6 linked regions of the Homo sapiens genome follow. The protein of the gene in region 1 purifies or fractionates together with the protein of each later gene. This does not show direct contact. Each region holds a gene or a part of one and is shown on either strand. Other genes may lie near its edges. The genes, in order: DEAF1, SUB1, SP3, MYH10, CDC42BPA and LMO7.

Region 1 (3,245 bases):
TATCTCTATAAAAAAAAAAAAATGTTTTAAAATTAGCTGGGTGTGGTGGCTCATGCCTGTGGTCCAAGCTACTTGGGAGACAGAGGCAGGAGGATCACTTGAGCCAGGAGATCAAGGCTGTAGTGAGCCGTGATGGCACCACTGGACTGCAGCCTGGGTGACAAAGCGAGACCCTGTCTATAGAAAACCTAAAATAGGCTGGGTACGGTGGCTCATGCCAGTAATCTCAGCACTTTGGGAGGCCAAGGCAGGCAGATCATGAGGTCAGGAGTTCAAGACCAGCCTGAACAACATGGTGAAACCCCGTCTCTGCTAAAAATACAAAAATTAGCCGGACGTGGTGGCGGGTGCCTGTAATCCCCAGCTACTAGGGAGGCTGAGGCAGGAGAATCGCTTGAACCTGGGAAGTGGAGGTTGCAGTGAGCCAAGATCGCGCCGCTGCACTCCAGCCTGGGTGACAGAGCCAGACCCTGTCTCAAAAACAGAAACAAAACCAAAAACAAACGAACAAATAAAAACCAAAAATAAGTAATGAAATAAAAACAGTGACTAAAAATCCAATTAAAACACAATCCAAATCTGACTTACAGTGATCCAGGCCTCACAAATGAAAATAATGATGCGTGGGGCTTGCTTTAAAATGCTCAGCCCTCAGCCCAAAGAGAGAGGGGGACAAGCCAGGAGGGCAGGCGCTAAAGCAGCTGATACAGGTGAGGGCGACGGGCCTCTCCTGGGCGATCCAACTCATGTGCACGTCTCACATTTTCCAAAGTTAAGGATTAAAAGAAAAGTGTTGCCACCACAGCACGTAGGTGACTCAATCCAGGCAGTGCTGGGAGCAGGTGGGTGGACTTGACCCAGGCGGTGCTGGGAGCAGGTGGGTGGACTTGACCCAGGCGGTGCTGGGAGCAGGTGGGTGGACTTGACCCAGGCGGTGCTGGGAGCAGGTGGGTGGACTTGACCCAGGCGGTGCTGGGAGCAGGTGGGTGGACTTGACCCAGGCGGTGCTGGGAGCAGGTGGGTGGACTTGACCCAGGCGGTGCTGGGAGCAGGTGGGTGGACTTGACCCAGGCGGTGCTGGGAGCAGGTGGGTGGACTTGACCCAGGCGGTGCTGGGAGCAGGGGATTCCTGTTGGGGCTTCATAACATGCATAAACTCGTGTATACTTTTGTGTACATACCAAGTCCTCTACAATTAATTTTTAAAATTATCACTGCCTTTTTTTTTTTTTTTTGAGACGGAGTCTCCCTTTGTCTCCCAGGCTGGAGTGCTGTGGCACGATCTCGGCTCACTGCAAGCTCCGCCTCCCGGGTTCATGCCATTCTCCTGCCTCAGCCTCCCGAGTACCTGGGACTACAGGCGCCCACCACCACGCCAAGCTAATTTTTTTGTATTTTTAGTAGAGACGGGGTTTCACCATGTTAGCCAGGATGGTCTCGATCTCCTGACCTCGTGATCCGCCCGCCTCGGCCTCCCAAAGTGCTGGGATTACAGGCGTGAGCCACCGTGCCCAGCTGAAGGCAGCTTTTTAAAGAACAGGATCTGAGGGAGGCTTGAGGACAGGGTGTCCTGGGCTGGAGGTCCGGCTGGAAGGCAGCTTTTAAAAGAACGGGATGTGTTCGTTCTGTAGGTGAAAGGAGCTCAGTAAGTGCTTATATTGGGGCCCAAATAGTGTTTGCCAGGAATGTATACACTCAGCCTCTGCAGTACACTTTCCCTGCTTGAGGAAATTCTATCCTCCTACTGAAACTGAGATAAATTAAAATGTATATTGTAATACCTATAGCAGTAAGAAAATAACAACTTTAAAGATACTGTTTAAAAATGTTCAACAAAAGAATTGAAGTGGTACACTAGAAAACACAACTAGAAAATACACATTTAACAGAAAAGAAGGCAGTGAAAGAACAGAGGAGCAAAACATGAAACATAAACTGCAAATATAAACACAAATCCACTCACATTGATAATTACATTAAACATGAGATTAGGTTTTGCGCAGTGGCTCATGCCTATAATCCCAGCACTTTGGGAGGCCAAGGTGGGAGGGTTACTTGAGCCCAGGAGTTCAAGACCAGCCTGGCCAACATGGCAAAACCCTCTCTCTACGAAAAATACAAAAATTAGCCTGGCATGGTGGTGCATGCCTGTAATCCCAACTACTTGGGAGGCTGAGGCAGGAGAATCGCTTGAACCCGGGAGGCAGAGGCTGCAGTGAGCCGAGATTGCGCCACTGCACTCTAGCCTGGGCAACCGTGCGAGACTCCATCACACACACACACAACAACAACAACAAAAACGGGCATGGTGGCGGGTGCCTGTAATCCCAGTTACTTGGGAGGCTGAAGGAGGAGTATTGCTTGAACCCGGGAAGCGGAGGTTGCACTGAGCTGAGATTGTGCCACTGCACTCTGGCCTGGGTGACAGAGAGAGACCCCACTTAAAAAAAAAAACAAAACAGCTGGGTGTGGTGGCTCACACCTATAATCCCAGCAGTTTGGGAGGCCGAGGCGGGCGGATCACTTGAGGTCAGGAGCTCAAGACCAGCCTGACCAACATGGTGAAACCCTGTGTCTACTAAAAGTACAAAAATTAGCCGGGTCTGATGGCACACTCCTGCAGTCCCAGTTACTCGGGAGAATGAGGCACGAGAATCCCTTAAACCCAGGAGGTGGAGGCTGCAGTGAGCCGAGATTACGCCAGTGCACTCCAGCCTGGGCAACAAAGTGATACTCTGTCTCAATTCAAAAAACAAAACAGGCCGAGTTCCAGTGCGGTGGCTCACACCTGTAATCTTAGAACTTTGGGAGGCTGAGGCGAGTGGATCACCTGAGGTCAGGAGTTCGAGACCAGCCTTGCCAACACGGAGAAACCCCATCTCTACTAAAAACACAAAAATTAGTTGGACGTGGTGGCTCATGCCTATAATCCCAGCTACTCAGGAGGCTGAGGAAGGGAAATCACTTGAACCCGGGACGTTGAGGTTGCAGTGGGCTGAGATCGTGCCATTGCACTCCAGCCTGGCGACAGAGTGAGATTGTCTAAAAAACAAAAACAAAAACAAAAACAAAAACAAAACAAAAAAGTAGATTAAACACTCCAATCAAAAGGCAGAGACTAGTGTGGTGGTTCACACCTGTAATCCCACCACTTTGGGAGGCTGAGGCGGGTGAATCTCTTGAGGTCAGGAGTTTGAGACCAGCCTGGCCAACATGGTGAAACCCGTCTCTATTAAAAATACAAA
Region 2 (3,500 bases), on another chromosome or scaffold:
TTTCATTTCACCTTCAGGATCCATCCAATATTCTCTAATATCAATTAGCACTTTGCCTTTAAAATCGCGAACACTAACGTACCTCATTTTCCCAATCTGCAAAAGAAACAAACATAAAAAGAGGTGCTCCTTTCAAGAGTGGTATCTGTTTCAATTGTATTCATATTCACAACTTGCTGCATGCTCACTCTACATCTAATCATGAAAATGACTACTGCTGACCCTTGAACAACATGGCTCTGAACTGTGCAGGTCCCACTTATATGCATATTTTTTTCAATAAATATACTGGAAAAATTTTTGCAGACTTGACAATTTGAAAAAACTCACAGAACAACTGCATAGCCTAGAAATAACGAAAACATTAAGAAAAAGTTAGGTATGTCATGAATGCATAAAACATACCTAGATATGAGGTTATTTTATCACTTACTATCATAAAACATACAAATCTATTATATGAAGTTAGAGAGAAATGTAAACAAAGATGGAGTATTAATTCATAACTGCATAAAATTAACTACAGTAGTGTACTAGTGTTAACTTCATAGCCACTTCCTGTTATCTCAGTGTACTCAAATGTTACAAGTATCTGCTTAAAACACCTTGTGTAAAACACCATGTGATGCTAATCATCTCTGCTGAGCAGTTCATGTCTCCAACAAATTGCGTATTGCAGTAAAAAGTGATCTCTCACGGTTTTCACATTATTTTTCATCATGATTACTGCAATACCATAAACTTTAAATAACACCATGAGTCCTATACAAAGTGCCCCTAGTGATGCTGAAAGTGCTCCCAAGAAGCAGAGAGAAGGCATGACATCACAAGAAAAAAACTGCCAGAAGCAGTGGTGCATGCCTATGATCCCAGCTACTCAGGAGGCTGAGGCCGGAGGATCACTTGAGCCCAGGAGCTTGAATCCAATCTGGGCAACACAGCAAGATCCTGTCTTTAATTTTAAAATGCAAAAAAATAAAAATAAAAATAAAAATAAAAAAGTTGAATTGCTTGATATGTACCACGGACTGAAATCTGCAGCTGTGGTTGCCTACAATTTCTAACAGATGACATATTTTATTAACAGATGACATATCTTATAAACAGACAACGTAAACTAATGTTATTGATAAACACCATACAGTACAGTAAAATGTAATTTTTCTCCCTTATGATTTTCTTAGTAATATTTTCTTTTCTCTAGCTTACTTTATTGTAAGAATACAGTATATAATACATATAACATACAAATATATGTTAACTGTTTATGTTACTGTTAAGGCTACCAGTCAACAGTAGGCTATACTTAGCAGTTTTGACAAAGTCAAAAGTTATAACCAGATTTTCAACTGCACAGGGGTTGGTGCCTTGCATTTTGACCCTGCATTGTTCAAGGGTCAACTGTACTACTCTCAGTATCAAAACTGCAACCAAAGGAAATTGCTGTTTAAACTATCATATGATCCAGCAATCCTACTTCTGAATATATATCCCAAAAAATTGAAAGCACAGACTCCAAGAGACATCTGCACACCCATGTTCATAGCAGCATTATTCACAAGAGCCAAGAAGTGGAAACAACACAAATATCCACCCAGAGATGAACTGATAAACAAAATGGGAGAGGGGGGGTGGAATAGACACACAATGGAATATCAATTAGCTTTTAAAAAAGGAAATCCTGTTACATACTACGTCAATGAAATAAGCCAGTCATAAAAAGGAAAAAGGTAATACTTTATGATTCCACTTACATGATGTCAAGTTCACAGGAACAAAAAGTAGAATGGTGGTTACCAGGGCTGGGAGAAGGGGAACTGTTGTTTAATGGCCACAGAGGTTCAGTTTTGCAAGATGAAACAGTTTCGGCAATCTGTTTCACAACAATGTGAATATACTTTTATGGTTTTTACCAGCAAAAAAAAAAATCATTAGGAAGCAATATTTTGCAGTACAAACTACAACCAAGAGGAATCCACAGATGCAACTAGCTACACTGCTTCACCAACCATTCTGAATATACGAATCCAGAGTTCCAGTCAATAACAACCAAGTTTTTCCTTTTCATGTTCACTTCAAATAACATCTTTAATGCACCTCACTCACAGTCAGATTGAGAACTTAAAAATATTCACAGAAAATTATTTTTCAAAAATCTTATATATCTGCTTACCACAAATTACAAATTCCAGAGAAAAGAACAGGCTTTCCTCAACAAAGTGTCTCTTAGCACTTTCCAAGACTCACTATAATATAGTAAGGGAAGACAATGCAGTACTGGAGTAAAGACAGACATAAGAGGTCAGTGGAACACAACGGAGTCAAAAAATACACACGCATTGGATATATTCACTGATTTTTTTGGGGGGAGGGGGTAAAATCCAAGGTAATTCAAAGGAATAAGAATACTCTTTTCAACAAATGGTGTTGAAACAACAGGCTATCTGCATTTGGGGTGGGGAAGACTCTAAATCTCTATCTTACATCATACACAGAGAAATTAATTCTACATGAATTATAGACCTAAATGTGAAAACTAAAACTATAAAACTTCTAGGAAAAAACACTGGCAAAAATTTTTGTGGCCATGGTAGGCAAAATACGTCTTGGACAGAAAATAAGCATTAAGCAAAAAAGGAGAAAAATCGATAGAATAGACAATCACACTAAAGCCTTTTTTAAAAAGATGCTTCAGAAAATAAAAAGGTAAACCAGAAACCTAAAGAAAATATTCACTCAAGTTGGAGCCACAGGGGTCTTGGCCTTCGAGGAGAGCCTGAGGAAGAAGCAGAACCGTGGACGTGAAGAAAATGATGAACTGACCAGAATCCGTGAGGACCTCATTTCCAAGAGAGAGAAGATCTGTCACAGACGCCCCTGACCAACTGCCAGTCCCCCCTTATTCTGTCTGTTTGATTCTCTCTGGTTTCATATTTTCCTCTCTGTTAACCTCCACTCATTTTTGAACTAGATTGCTTTGAAAACTAAAGTTTCCCTGAAGTCTAAAAAAAATATTAATTATACTTACATCTGACAAAATATATAAAGTGTTACAACTCAAATGACCTGGCATTTTAAGTGGCCAAAAGATACTCTTCACAAAAGATATAAAAATAACCAATAAACACACTAAAGATGTACAATGAATTAAGACATGTACATGAGGGAAATGGAAAGTAAAACCACCATGAGCTACCATTATACATTCAATGTAACTAAAAAGAAAAAAACTTAAAAGACTGACAATATCTAGCGAGGATGTGGAGCAACTGGAATCTCCTAAGTAGTACCGATGGCTGTGTAAAATGCTACAGCTACTATGGAAAATGGTTTGACAGTGTCTTATACAGTTACACATTTACCCTACGACTCAGCAAATGTATCTGGTATTTACCCAAAAGGGAAAAAATGTCCACAAAATGACTTGTACAAGAATATTCACAGCAGTTGTATTCCTAATAGCCCAAGACTTGATACAATCCCAATGTCCACCCAAGGTG
Region 3 (3,500 bases), on another chromosome or scaffold:
ATATCAAATTTGTACCAAAGATATCAATTAATTTGTTTTGTGCTTATTGTCAGACAACAAAAGACTTAGTACTCATTCATGGCAGTCAGTTTTAAACATACTGTTTAGTGAAAAATAATTCTTTTACAACAAAAACGATTGTTACCAGCTTCATATAATTAAAACTGAAAACCAAATTGTGTAACAGGTAGCATAACATGTCAGTTTATATTATTTTAAAACCAAATGTTATTCCATAATCATTTATGCAACAACCCCAAATTTCAAACAATATTGAACACAATACAAATTTTTCATAAAACAAAACTTTTGGGTCTGAGTAGGCAGTACTGGAATTTAAACTACAATTAAGAGCCTAAGGGGATGCTTGCTCTATTTTAAGTGATTGTAACGCAGGAGTGTTTAACAGAACCACTTGAGCAGCTGTTTCAAAACACATATACACTCCATCTCCAGAGATGTTGATTTAGTAAGCTGAGGTGGCTACCAGGCCTATGGAATCTCTAAAATGCTCCCCAGCAATTTCTAATGAACAATACTGTTTAAGAACTATTTTCTATGAAATAGGCTTGACATGCTTTCAGCTTATATGTATGTGTATTTTTAAGTATCTTAAGCATTGCCACTATTTTGAAAGACCAAAGTTATTTACAGGGCATCTGACTTTCTGCGGTAGGTGTAGCTCCTTTAAAAGGTTATGTGCTTTTTGGTTGAGTCACTTTTCAGTAATTAAGCCTCAATCTATAGAAAATGAGATGCTCTTTAAGTGATACTTTCTTAAATTAAAATTTGAGGTATACAGATAATCGCGTCCACTAAATGTTACAACAGGAATTATTTGTACATAAATATATTCAATATGCACTAACTCTAGCCTTTACAAAAATAAAGCAATTGACAAAACACCTATTAGAGTATACCTACCCTGAGAATTATACACAATACTAATAGGTTTTATAACCAGAAAAAGTTGACATCAGAGCAAATCTTCAAATGTTGTTTCCAGAGTATATTCAACATTTTAAAATATAAAAATAGAAATATTTAAAATTATCTACACTGAGGTTACATAACTTTGGTAAAAGTTCCAAAGTTCACTAATATATTCCTAGGGGGCACTAAAAAAATCTACAACTTTATTTAAATAATTTTCAAGACTACTTACTTTCTTCATTGCATTCATTCTCCACGAATTCATAAAATATGCATGGACACCTATCGATTCAAAGTACACCATAAACTTACTGTAAAAATCCAGTATTACTTAAAACATCTCTACTATCATTCAAATGGTTTAATCTGACTTAATGGGCAGTTTGCTCAAGTGAACCACCTGCTGCTCACTTAATTCTCTTCACATTAATCTTAATTTAAAAATTCTAAAAATTACCTAAAGGATTTTAAGATTCAAAATCTAATCCCTGTAACTTCAAAATAATTGTAAATTCTAGTGGTTCCTTTATATTATTCCAAGTAGAACTTCCTATTTTACATCACAGGCTTAAGTCTCACATTTAGAAAAACTGTCCATGTTTATGCGTGTCTAGAGTTCTCCAATGCAATCAGGTATTACAGACAGAGTCAGACTGGGCCTGGAAAACAGAAAATGGACATCTTTACCCCCACTGTATACATGTGTTAAGAAACTTGATTTTTACTTTAAAACATCTACAATACACAATCACATTAATACTCTTTCCTCCTACTCTGCCTTTATAATGATGAAACACATGCAAATTCAAAGGCAACTTTTTCAAGTAACTCCTGCCATGGTTACCAACGCTTGTCTTATCATTTTCAGGAGTCTTAATGTAAATTCAGGTTTTCGATAAATCAAAATATTCTGCATTGCTTTAAAACGGAAAACAAAAAAATTGCAAAATGGTACTGATAAAACTGATATGAATCAATGTGGGCTAAGGGCTAAGACTTTTTTTCAAAAATTTTATTTAATAAGCTCATTCTTATTTACTCTAGGTAAAAAATTAGTAAATGACCAGTGTCTCTATATATCTCTTCTTCAAATAAATGCCTGTTTACAATTCAGTGTCTAAAATCAAGAATCTAAAAATAAAAAGCCAAGTTGAAGAAAAATAAACCACCAATTCTTACCCCATACCACTGCAATATTTTTTATGCATAGGAATACAACAAACTCAAAAGAAAAAAAAATAGTGTTTTATTAACTACCACACTGTTATAATACACTTTAAACGTACAATAAGGTAGCCTTTAAATTTGAGGTGGTCTTAAGAATAACAAATGAACAGAATTCCAAATTTTTGAAATAGGTGAACTGCTGCAGTTACAGGTATACATTTAGGAAAACTGTATAGCTCTTACAAGACCAGCAATGTAACTTTATTTTGTACATTTTTGAATTGAAAATATAAACAATAATTAAAAAATAAAAAGAAAATACAGCATAATAAAAAACATACGCTTCTCAATTAAATGTACTGGATACATATAAATTTTAAGGGAAGAAGCAAAAAAGGAAAATGATTGATATTTAAGTGCAGACTGACTACCTAGACAAAAAAAAAAAAGACTTAAAAAAATATCATAAAACCTCTAGTTCTTCTATGACTAATATCCATATGGTTGGAGTATCGTCACTATGGAAGTGATTTTGTTATGTTTGCATATGTTACACTTTACTGGTAATTTACATGATGGCTTTTAAGGCCCTGGGAGACATGGTTTTTGGAAACAAGATTGGATAAAAATCACTGCTAAGACGCAATACACCTTATTTTTTTGGTCCTCCAATAGTCAAGAAAAGGGATAATTCACTATAACATTCTCTTACCACCCAAATGCCTCAACTTATACATTTTAAACTTTTTTAAACATTGGTTATATTGCCCAACTTCGTTATTGAAAGAATATTAACAAGACATTATTTTGGCAAATTAAATCTTAAACATGGCTTTTCAACAGGATTTAAAAGGTGACTATCCCTAGAGTTCCATGTTAAAATGTAGTTTTCAAAATCTTACAAGAGTAATGCTTAAAATATTGTACATAGTTAACCTAATTAAAATAATTAGCTTCAAAATGACAAATTGATAAGCTAAGTAAAGCCTACACTATGTAACATTTGCTTGGAAACTTGATTTGTCAGTTATGCATAATAAAAATTCCAGTCATCAAGAAAATTACAAAATTTTTTATCATAACATGATTTCTTTCACCCACCAGCTTTTTTATCTTACAATAGATAAATACCAACATGTTCTCATTTTTACACTAAACCACACAGGATTGATGCATTTGGTTAGACTACCATTCGCATTGTTAAATTCAATTTTCTCTTTATATAACTTGGTAAAATTTCATTTCTTCTAGATTCCAAAAGTACCTACAAAACCCATGCAATTTTACCATTTTTAATATACTATGGAATATCATACAAAGTAAGGCATTTCAGTGTCATGTATAACCAAGTTACTGTCAATCCAAAAATTTTTGCACATCAATAAAAAGATATCTAAGAA
Region 4 (3,500 bases), on another chromosome or scaffold:
GAGGAAGCTCCATCACTTTGTGGCTAAGCTATGTCCCCTCCTCTACTTGTGCACTGGCTTTCTGGACCAAATGGCAGGATTTTACATCCATCATCTTTCTAATGTGACTCATCATGATTGCCTGACAGGATCTTTTTGGGATTTGATACCAACTTAAACATTTTTGCTGCTACTCCAAATTCCAGGTTATTATAAATTTCATAGGCATGGCTTCCATCACTTCATTCAAACCAACAGAAGAAGCCAACTGAGTACCTACTCTTGCTCTATCAAATCCCCACTTCTCCCCTCTGTTCACTCCACTCCCCTAGCCAAAAATGCTAGAGGTTCTTTGTAGGCAAGAGGAAATCATAAAGTAGTCTAAGGTTGTTAAGAGGTTCTTGAGTCCATCAGCTAATCTCAACTTCAACAAAATCCCTGAAATGGTATAAAAATATTATGCACTTAGCGTGTGTATATATGTGCTATAACGTTCTCTAGATTCTAAAGGGCTCTATCTGTATCCTAAAAGATTAATCACTGATAGTGGTTACACATTCAACCAACTTCTGGGCACAATGGCCCATAACTGTTATCTCAGCAACTTGAGGGGCTAAGGTGGGAGGAGTGCTTGAAGCCAAATATTTGAGACCAGCCTGGGCAACATAGCAAGATCCCGCCTCTACAGAAAAATTTAAAAATTAGCCAGGCGTGTTGGTGCATATCTAGCCCTTTAACTACTACTAATAATTTACTAGAACCAGCTGGGTGCAGTAGCTCATGCCTATAATCCTAGCACTTTGGGAGGCCGAGATGGGTGGATCACCTGAGGTCAGAAGTTCGAGACCAGCCTGGCCAACATGGTGAAACCCCATCTCCACCAAAAATAACAAAAAATTAGCCAGGCGTGGTGGTGGGTGCCTGTAATCCCAGCCACTCAGGAGGCTGAGGCAGGAGAATTGCTTGAACCTGAGAGGCGGAGGTTGCAGTGAGCTGAGATCGTGCCACTGCACTCCAGGCTGGGTGACAGAGCAAGACTCCGTCTCAAAAACAAACAAAAATAAATTTAAAAAAATAATTTACTAGAACCAAATAGCTAAGATTCTTCAGAAATTACTTGTTGCAATGTAATGCGTTACAAACACTCATCTTCTATAGTAGCGGCTGTCAAATTCAGGCATGCATTTGCAGCACCTAGAGGGTTTATTAAAATACAGATTGCTGGGCTCTATCCCAGAGTCCCTGATTCAGTAGGTATAGGGTAGAGCCTGAGAACTATTTTTTTTTTTTTTGAGACAGAGTTTCACCCTGTTGCCCAGGCTGGAGTGCAGTGGACGCAATCTCAGCTCACTGCAACCTCTGCCTCCAGGGTTCAAGTGATTCTCTTGCCTCAGCCTCCCAAGTAGCTGGGATTACAGGCAGGCCTGCACCATGACCCGCTAATTTTTGTATTTTTAATAGAGATGGGGTTTCACCATGTTGGTCAGGCTGGTCTTGAACTCCTCACCTCAGGTGATCCACCTGCCTCGGCCTCCCAAAGTGCTGGGATTACAAGCGTGAGCCACCGCGTCCAGCCTGAGCCTCAGAATTTGCATTTCTAACAAGTTCCCAGATGCTGCTGCCACTGCTGGTCCTGGGACACATTTGACAACCATTGCTCCAAAGTTCTGTGGTTGCCATGGTGCGCCACTGCTACCAGCAGGTATGTTAGAGTAGAAAAAGAGGTTGAAAACCAAATTCTAGACTAATTCATAACAATTTAAATAACATGTTGATGTCTTAAAGGTTATAGACTTGGATAAAACAAAAACCGCAAAATAAGATGAAACAAAAAATCACACAACATGTGATTAATGTTATTAAAACTTCTATACAAATAAAATTGCTAACACATTTTATACCTAAACTTGCATTAGTCTTCTAAGACATCCTCTTTGGAGAGGGCAATACAGAAAACATTCATAGATACATGTACATTCTGCATAACAGTTTTAAAAGCCTCTAGGGACTGGTCTAATAACACTATTAACAAGTTGTCTCTTTCCAACTTAAACGTTGCACACTGGTAAAAAGAAAGGAGGCCAGGTGGGGTGGCTCACGCCTGTAATCCCAGCGCTTTGGGAGGGCGAGGCAGGTAGATTGCTCGAGTCCAGGTGTTCAAGACCAGCCTGGGCAACATAGCGAAACCCCGTCTCTACAAAAAATACAAAAAATTAGCTGGGCTTGGTGTCACAGGCCTGCAGTCCCAGTTCTTCAGGAGGATGAGGCAGGAAGATCACTTGAGCCCAGGAGGCAGAGGTTGTAGTGAGCTGAAATCACACCACTGCACTCCAGCCTCGGCAACAGAATGAGACTCTGTCTCAAAATAATAATAAATAATAATAATAATAATAATAATAATAATAAGTAAAATAAAAAATTTAAAAAAAAAGAAGAAAGGAGGCATGGCTTCAAGGTGGGAAACATCACAGGTAAATTTGAGAACAAATAATAGGATACACACTCCACCTTTCAGAAGGGTAGAATCTATTAAAAGAAAATATTCAACTATAACAAAATATGACAAGTTTCTCTTACTATTCTTATCAGGTGTAAACTGCATATCCTACAGAGCACTTAGGAAACTGTCTTGCTGTCAGTAGACACGCACACACTTCTTAAATTTTACACTGGACATGTAATTAGATGCTTAAATTTAGCAGGTGACTATAAATTAGAATAATTTAACAAATAACTTCTAGAACAGGTCTAGAAGCAGTAGATTATATATCTTAAAATTATTTTATCAAATTGGGACATCTTACATATTATCAGTACTTTTTCTAGATGGGGAAATGCTTGTAATTTAGTATTTTAAAAAACCCAGTAGAACACAAAAGTGTAATTACACAGCATGTTCCCAATTTTGTGGGGAAAACTACATACACGTGTGTATTTTTTTTTTAAACGGAACAAATATTCATTGGGTCTTTACTGGGTAGTAGGATTACCAATGACTTTCACCTTTTCAGTCTCTTCTACAACTAAACACTATGAGGAGAGTCATCTGTTCCACGCTGTATCTTGAGCATTTTGTCTAGTCCCTGGTATATAACAGGGGATCTGTACCTATTGATCAATATTTACGTGAATGGTCCCAACCCTCATAGTGAAATTCAACTTCTCCACAACCAAAAAGCTATTATTCCTTCAACTCCTGACCCAAATGCCATCCTTTCAGAAGTTCTTTTCAGGTCAATGTGGCAATTTAATCCTTTTCCTTCTCCTAACATTTTGTACTGTTCTCCTGACTTTCTTCTTACCCTACCCTGCGTTGTACCAGAGGGCTTTGCAGCTGTTAAGTGTTCATATTATTGTTTACCTGATAGAGTTCATGAGACCATTGGAGATATTTTGTTCAGTTTAATTCTTCACTTGTAATTGTCAAATACATTTATTTCACTCCATAATACATTGGTACCCAATCTGGATAATACTGGTGTTTAACAGTGTACCACTCACCAGTGATTTGCTTTGCAGGA
Region 5 (3,500 bases), on another chromosome or scaffold:
TTCTTTGTGAAGTTTAGACAGGAAAGTATGAGAAATTTTTATCTGCCTTGAATACAGTACTAGGATGGTTTTACAATTATCAGTTATCAAACAGTGATCACAGCTTATTGTATTGAAATAGTATTCACTGTTTCAGTGAAAAGTTATATAACGTGTACCGATTATGTACCCACAAAAATTAAAAATAAAGATTTTGTTAAGTCATATAACATTAACATAAAAATTTTTAGTACAGGATTAAAGCCATAGTAAATAAAATAACTGAATAAAAATAAAAGCTCAAATTAAGAAGGCTAAAAAGGGGCCGGGAGCAGTGGCTCATGCCTATAATCCCAGCACTTTGGGAGGCTGAGGAGGGCGGATCACAAGGTCAGGAGATCAAGACCATTCTGGCTAACACGGTGAAACCCCGTCTCTACTAAAAACATAAAAGTTAGCCAGGTGTGGTGGCGCACGCCTACAGTTCCAGCTACTCAGGAGGCTGAGGCAGGAGAACGGCGTGAACCCGGAAGGCGGAGCTTGCAATGAGCCGAGATTGTGCCACAGCACTCCAGCCTGGGAGACAGAGCGAGACTCTGTCTCAAAAAAAAAAAAAAAAAAAAAAAAAAAAAAGAGGAAGGCTAAAAAGGCAAAAAACTCAAAAATTTTAAGTTCTTATTTTCCTAAATTTTAATCTCATATAACCTAAAGGGTTATAGCAGAGGTCAATATACTATGTTGGCCTGTTTTGGCATGGCTCACAAGTTAAGAATGGTTGAATTATTTGGCTATTGGACTGGCCGAATAATTGGCTTGAGGTCTGTATTCACCTCAGGCAGGGCTATACCTCAGAGCTATACCACGTCTGTGGACTATTTTCCCTATTGATTTCCTACCAAGTTTGCTATTGTTAGCAGCAACACACTGGGCTTGGGTATTTAGTCCTGGAATCTGCCCTCTGTATCAGCAAAGCTGCTGATTTTTCTATCCAGTTCCATGCTACTAGTACTACTGTCCCAGACCAAGTCAGTAGTGGGGATGGACGTGTGTGGTATATGTGACTTTAAACTAAAGTTCAGCAGTTTTTCACAAATAAATGCTTCTCAATTTATTTCTCTTCAATTGTTGTATCAGGCCCTGACATGGTTGATTTTGATAATTTTGTCCAGTTTTATGGTTTTAGGGAGAAATTTGCCAACCTCTGCACTTTACAATCATAAAATCTGCTTTTTTAAATATCTAATTTGTTCTCTTACGAAGCTTAATGGCATAACTTATCTAAGAGGTAAAACTTTGAATTTTAATTTTGTTCTTAGTCACAAATAACTATGTTCACCTCAGTTAACTTTCTTCTTAATTTGATTTGTGACAGAATAAGCACCAGAAGCCATGATCACTGACTAATAACTGATCATTGTAAAATCATCCTAGCAAAATACTTATAAACCAAAAAATTACTATATAACCATAGTAGAAAGAAACAGAGGGACAGAACTTCTTCACAGTGTCATACTTACAGAATTTTTTAAACAATCATCATCTACATCAAAATTCGATGTATCTGTTGGGCTACTAACTTCTGGAATATAAGGTGCTTCACAGTTCCGAATATTATCCCAATCAATTCCACTGAAAAATGGGTGTTTCTTAAAGTCTTCTATTCCATTTTGACCAAGTCGATGTTCTCTGCTACAAATGAGCCTTCGAATAAGATCCTTAGCATTTTCAGACACATCAGTCACTTGGGCTGGAAACTGAAACCTCTCCTAAACAGAGAAAAACAGAAACAAAATATAAATCAGTGTTTAACATACTAAGTAGTTGGTTGACTTATTTATTTTCTTAAAAATACATTTTATTTTAAATATATCTAATAACTGCATGTTGGTGCAAAGTACTAATACTAAAGGAATACAGGGATGAATGACAGAAGATCATTTTCCTAGGACTTTTAATTTCATATATGACTCAATCATGCATGCGCTATAGAAAGAAGAATACATTGTACCTTAGATATCTTAAACTGCTATCAGAATGAAGAGAAATTACTTCAAAGTAGTGGAATTTGACTCTATTTAAATCAAGATAGATGATTGATAATGGTCATATAAGTTACATACTAATGATTAACTAATAATAAATATTTTTAAAGGACATAATATGTATCTGACACTATTTAAAGTACGTTACTCATTTAACCCTCAAAACAGTCATTTTAGGTGGGTACTCCTACTATGCTAATATTATAGAAGAAATAAAGACACACAGAATTCAAGTAACTTTCTCAACATTACACATCTAGGAAGTGGCAGAACCAGAATTTGAACTGAAGCTGTAATCTGTGCTGTTAAATATATACTACAATATTTTTTTCTAATTCAAATGATGTACATGCTATTTACAACCCTGCTGCTATTTCCAGTCTTTCAACTCTTTATAACTATATGAAACATTATCTTTGCAAACAGGAAGAAGAATATAAACCCTATAAAACTGATTTTTATACATGTAAAGCAACTAATCATAATTGCTTCACTAGAACAAATTAAAAAGAATAGATTATCATTCCCTTCTATCGGATATTCATATTCTAAGTATTTGCAACTGCTCACAATCTTCTAAGACTGCTAATAAAACCTTTCTTCTTATTATTATGAACAGTCTATTTCACTTAGTACTAAATATATTAACGTTTCATTAATTTGTTCTTGTTGTGTGTCTGTGTTGCTTCTAGTGTTCTGTGATCATAAATAACGTTAGAATAGGTATCCTTGTACATATATCTTTGTTCTACTGAGAATGTCATAGGGTAGATTCCTAGACTGAAGTTGCTCAATCAAAACCTCTAACCATTTTTTAAGGCTCTAGGTGCACACCTGTAAACTTCCTGAACAGAAAGGTTACACCAATTTATATTCCTATTAATGTCTTAGAATGCCCATCTCACTGCATTATTTATGGTACAGAGTACTATTTTTCTTTTGATCTTTGCTAATTTGACAAGAAAAAAAAGTATCTCATCCTTATTTTAAATTTGTATTGCACTTATTACCACTAAAGTTGAAAATTTTTTTACACATATTCTAGTCATGATTATACATATACTATAGTAAGCAATGATCTAAATTCTCTACTTACGACCTTTGTTATTCTACTGGGGAGACCACTTAATTTCCTACTTAGCGGCATCTCTAATAAAATACAAGAAAATTAGAACTAATAACTTATGAATAATTTATGGATTTTGACTATTTATGTTGTCCTGTCCCATACTAGGATAGAAATGTGATTGTTCACTGTTTTTAGAAAAATATTTTCTCTTTAAAAATGGTTTTATTATATGTGTTATTTACCACATTAATTTGAACAAAAGTAAAACATACTAACTTTGTGGTTCATGATTTTTCCGTATGTCTCCACCAGCGATTCTGCATAAAATGGTGTTTCTCCGTAAAGCATTTCATACATACAGACCCCCAAAGACCACCAGTCACATTCAGGTCCATATCTCCCTTTTCCAT
Region 6 (3,500 bases), on another chromosome or scaffold:
GTCATATAATTTACCCCTCACTACAGGGAACACATCCAGCCACTGAAATGGTTGTACATGTTGACATTTCCACCACATACTTGTACTCTGGGTACTTTTATTTCCTTTAAGAAAAGCAACTATTTCTGAGAGCTGCTTACATTATAAAGTTATATTTAATTTACAAATGAAAATTTTTCTGAAAGTTACAATTCAACATGCTTAAAGCTGCAAAGAGATTTTTAATCAAGTTAAAACAGCTTTCCTATGACTTGAGAGTAGCAAATGTTTAAGCATCATGCAGATGAGCTGGAAAGCGGATAATGTGCCTTTGCATGGCACACGGAAAGCATGCAGGGACCCTGGTTTTTAAAATCAGTGGCTAACAAGTACTTGCAATTTGTTGCCTGTGGCTCAGTTACACCTTTGGCATCTAGAATGGTTATACTGCTTTACATTTAGTAGCTTCCAACATTTCTGAATTATCAAAGTTATAAAAAGCTATCAAAACTAGAGATTCTTATAGATGAAGTAAATCCTCATAAGGGAAGATACTTAGCTACTGAGGCTTGAGCAGATTAAAACATCTGTCATCCTTTAACTCTCTTCCTCTTGCTCAAACACTATTAGCCCTTAGATTCACAAAGTTACAGAAAGTTTGGTGGAAAATATTAAGATATAGCCACCTTGTGATTTTGTACTAAGAATGAATAAATGATTTACTGTAAATGTAGTTTTTGCCTGTAATCCCAGCACTTTGGGAGGCTGAGGTGGATGGACCACCTGAGGTCAGGAGTTTGAGACCAGCCGGACCAATCTGGTGAAACCCCGTCTCTACTAAAAATACAAAAATTAGCAGAGTGTGGTGGCATGCAACTGTAGTCCCAGCTACTCAGGAGGCTGAGACAGGAGAATTGCTTGAACCTGGGAGGTGGAAGTTGCTGTGAGCCAAGATTGCGCCACTTCACTCCAGCCTGGGCGACAGAGCGAGACTCCATCTCAAAAAAAAAAAAAAAAAAAAATGTAGTTTTTGCAACAGTGATATTAGAAATTAAAAATATTTTTGCAGTTTTTGAAGGTCTATTTTGCACTATAAATATAGCCATGTTATAACTTTTTTTTCCTAATCAGGAATCTTGAAAATATAATACTTCCAAATACCACCTAGGGAAGTTTAATGCATCCCTACTAACGAAGCTCCCAGTTGGCCGATTATAGGATAATGTCAACTGGGTGTATTCTAAACTTGAAGTAAATGCTAATATTCTTTTTCCATCACAGATTTTCTAAAATGTAGTAATTTGGGCTTTAGCATCCATAAATCAGAATTTTAGTCTATGTAGCAACCAAATACCAAAATACATATACCTAATCTTAGGCAAGTGCTTTTGTGACTTTTAATCAACTCATTAAATTTTTAAAAAGGAAAAAAGAAGGGATGAAGCTGAAGTTTAAATTTTTAATAAAACAAATAATTTTATCTTGCACTGGGCACCAAGACACAGAAATATTACCATTAGGTTGCAAGATAAACATTTCCCACTTAAAAAATATCATGCACAGCACACAACAACCCCATTTAGTGACATGCCATGCCAGAAATACAGTAAGTTATACAAAGAACAAACAACACGCACAGATTTTTTACTGTGAACCACACAACTTACCCATTCTCACCATAAATCTTTTGAAAGAGTCTAAGAAACCAGAAAACCAAAAATTAAAAAGTCATTTTTCCCAGTCATATTAGTTTCTAAACGTTCAATGTCTTCCACTTAAGAATCTAACTGGAGACGGACAAATCTCAAAAGGTCACTTCTTCCATCACATTCTTGATCATGTCTCAAGTTCTCATCAATTTCCTATCTCAGGAAATTCAGATTAAGCAAAATGAAGAATTTCCTCAATTTACTCTGAGCTAACAAATCCATATGAAAAGGCTTCCCATTGTCAGGAACTGTTAAGTTAGATTTGGATCCTCTAATTTTATTCAACCTAATCAGATTTGTCCATCTCTAAGTTCCACAAACTGAACATTCATCAAAAAGGCAAGTTGCATAATACAAACTATCAAAATGGCCATGATTACATACACATAAAATTCAGCAGACAACAAATACCATTCATGCATTTTAACATCAACGTTTACTCTGAACTTCATAAATAAAAATAAGTTACAAATGATAGTCCAAGAAACCTAGGCCAAAACCAAAAATTAAGTTAAATGAAATTTGCAATGCCATATTTTAAGGGAAAATTTCACCCCCCCAAAAAAATCAGACACTCTAAAATGTGAGCAACACATAAAACCAAACTATAACCAGACTGTTACAAAAATGCCTGAACATGAGAAGTCCAGAAACTTCATATTGGTGGATAGTACCACAGTACTGCTTAAGTCAAAGGCAAGGTTTATGTATATACAGTCTTAAACAGGCCTAAATAAGTTATTTAGAGATATGCAAATATGGAATTGCACTTTTTGTACAAAACGACTGAGGGTTTTTCAAAGCAAATTAAATTTTACGGGATGCTTCAAAATGGCACGCGACATGCAGAGTTGAGCAACACGATGAGCTGCTTTCTCGCATGAGAAAAGTTACACAAGACCATCCATTACAAGCAAAATCCTTGCAGAAACACACTCTGACCTCTCCACCATCAGCCTTTTCTTGTGCCTAAGTCTGCTGGCCTCCCGGATGGCCTCCCATCTCTTCAAGTCAGCCTCACTGCAGGGGCCAGGGGTGAAACTGATGGGAGGCACGGTAGTTCCCAGTTTCCAGGACTGAATCTTACGTGTCAGCATGTCATCTTTCTTCTGCCGATATGAAGGAACTAATATTCTACAGCTATTACTTTTTTCTTTGGATGGGCATGTCCTTTCAAGTACACAGAGAAATTTTGCTTGAATTTCTGGAGGAAGAGTCCAGGGTTCGGGAAAAGGGACTGGGTGGTATCTATCTGGGGCCCCAGACAGCGGCACTTCTTTCTTCTGTGCTGGAATTCGGCGAACAATCATATCATCTTTTTCCAAATCCGGAAGTACAAGTTCACCTTCTCTACACTGTAAAATTATATCTCGCTCTACAGAATCATCTTGCTCAGAGAACTTTCTAAAGTCTTCAAAAGCTCGGAGAACATATGGATTTGCATGGAAAGCCCCAGTCTTTCTGACAAAGAAATCATCATTCTCTAAGTCAGGATCCAGGGCTGCCATCTCGAGGTCATCTCTTCTATAGCCTGGTGCATAAGAGAGATTCTTCCTGCGGGTTATGAGCCTTGGGCCAGAAGTGGGATCAATTTTGGTATGTGTTTCAGAAGACAAGATGTCATCAGAGTATGTTTGGAGGGCCTGAAGCAGTAAAAACTGACTGATGCACAGAGAGGAAAAAGGAAAGAGAATCTTATTAAGCTTAGGGAGAAAAGGTAATTAGCAGATCGACTAGCCAAAGGTGATTAGCAGACCAACTAGCCAGTTACTGAGGGTAAATCATTTTAGAGGACCATTGTGGGGACTCTTG

The links.
Region 2: the proteins of DEAF1 (region 1) and SUB1 purify together in Homo sapiens (affinity purification with western blotting, with the first as the bait; one study listed by BioGRID). This does not show direct contact.
Region 3: the proteins of DEAF1 (region 1) and SP3 purify together in Homo sapiens (affinity purification with western blotting; one study listed by BioGRID). This does not show direct contact.
Region 4: the proteins of DEAF1 (region 1) and MYH10 purify together in Homo sapiens (affinity purification with mass spectrometry, with the first as the bait; one large-scale study listed by BioGRID). This does not show direct contact.
Region 5: the proteins of DEAF1 (region 1) and CDC42BPA purify together in Homo sapiens (affinity purification with mass spectrometry, with the first as the bait; one large-scale study listed by BioGRID). This does not show direct contact.
Region 6: the proteins of DEAF1 (region 1) and LMO7 purify together in Homo sapiens (affinity purification with mass spectrometry, with the first as the bait; one large-scale study listed by BioGRID). This does not show direct contact.

What each region holds. Positions count from the first base shown.
Region 1 is NC_000011.10:646,978-650,222, forward strand, and holds part of DEAF1 (deformed epidermal autoregulatory factor 1 homolog), read right to left. Parts: intron 1-3,245. UniProt on the Homo sapiens protein: Transcription factor that binds to sequence with multiple copies of 5'-TTC[CG]G-3' present in its own promoter and that of the HNRPA2B1 gene. Down-regulates transcription of these genes.
Region 2 is NC_000005.10:32,595,557-32,599,056, reverse strand, and holds part of SUB1 (activated RNA polymerase II transcriptional coactivator p15), read right to left. Parts: intron 97-3,500; coding exon 1-96.
Region 3 is NC_000002.12:173,906,374-173,909,873, forward strand, and holds part of SP3 (transcription factor Sp3), read right to left. Parts: 3' UTR 1-3,500. UniProt on the Homo sapiens protein: Transcriptional factor that can act as an activator or repressor depending on isoform and/or post-translational modifications. Binds to GT and GC boxes promoter elements. Competes with SP1 for the GC-box promoters.
Region 4 is NC_000017.11:8,624,226-8,627,725, forward strand, and holds part of MYH10 (myosin-10), read right to left. Parts: intron 1-3,500. UniProt on the Homo sapiens protein: Cellular myosin that appears to play a role in cytokinesis, cell shape, and specialized functions such as secretion and capping. Involved with LARP6 in the stabilization of type I collagen mRNAs for CO1A1 and CO1A2.
Region 5 is NC_000001.11:227,143,993-227,147,492, forward strand, and holds part of CDC42BPA (serine/threonine-protein kinase MRCK alpha), read right to left. Parts: coding exon 3,367-3,500; intron 1,746-3,366; coding exon 1,497-1,745; intron 1-1,496. UniProt on the Homo sapiens protein: Serine/threonine-protein kinase which is an important downstream effector of CDC42 and plays a role in the regulation of cytoskeleton reorganization and cell migration. Regulates actin cytoskeletal reorganization via phosphorylation of PPP1R12C and MYL9/MLC2.
Region 6 is NC_000013.11:75,807,330-75,810,829, reverse strand, and holds part of LMO7 (LIM domain only protein 7), read right to left. Parts: intron 3,351-3,500; coding exon 2,631-3,350; intron 1,677-2,630; coding exon 1,647-1,676; intron 1-1,646.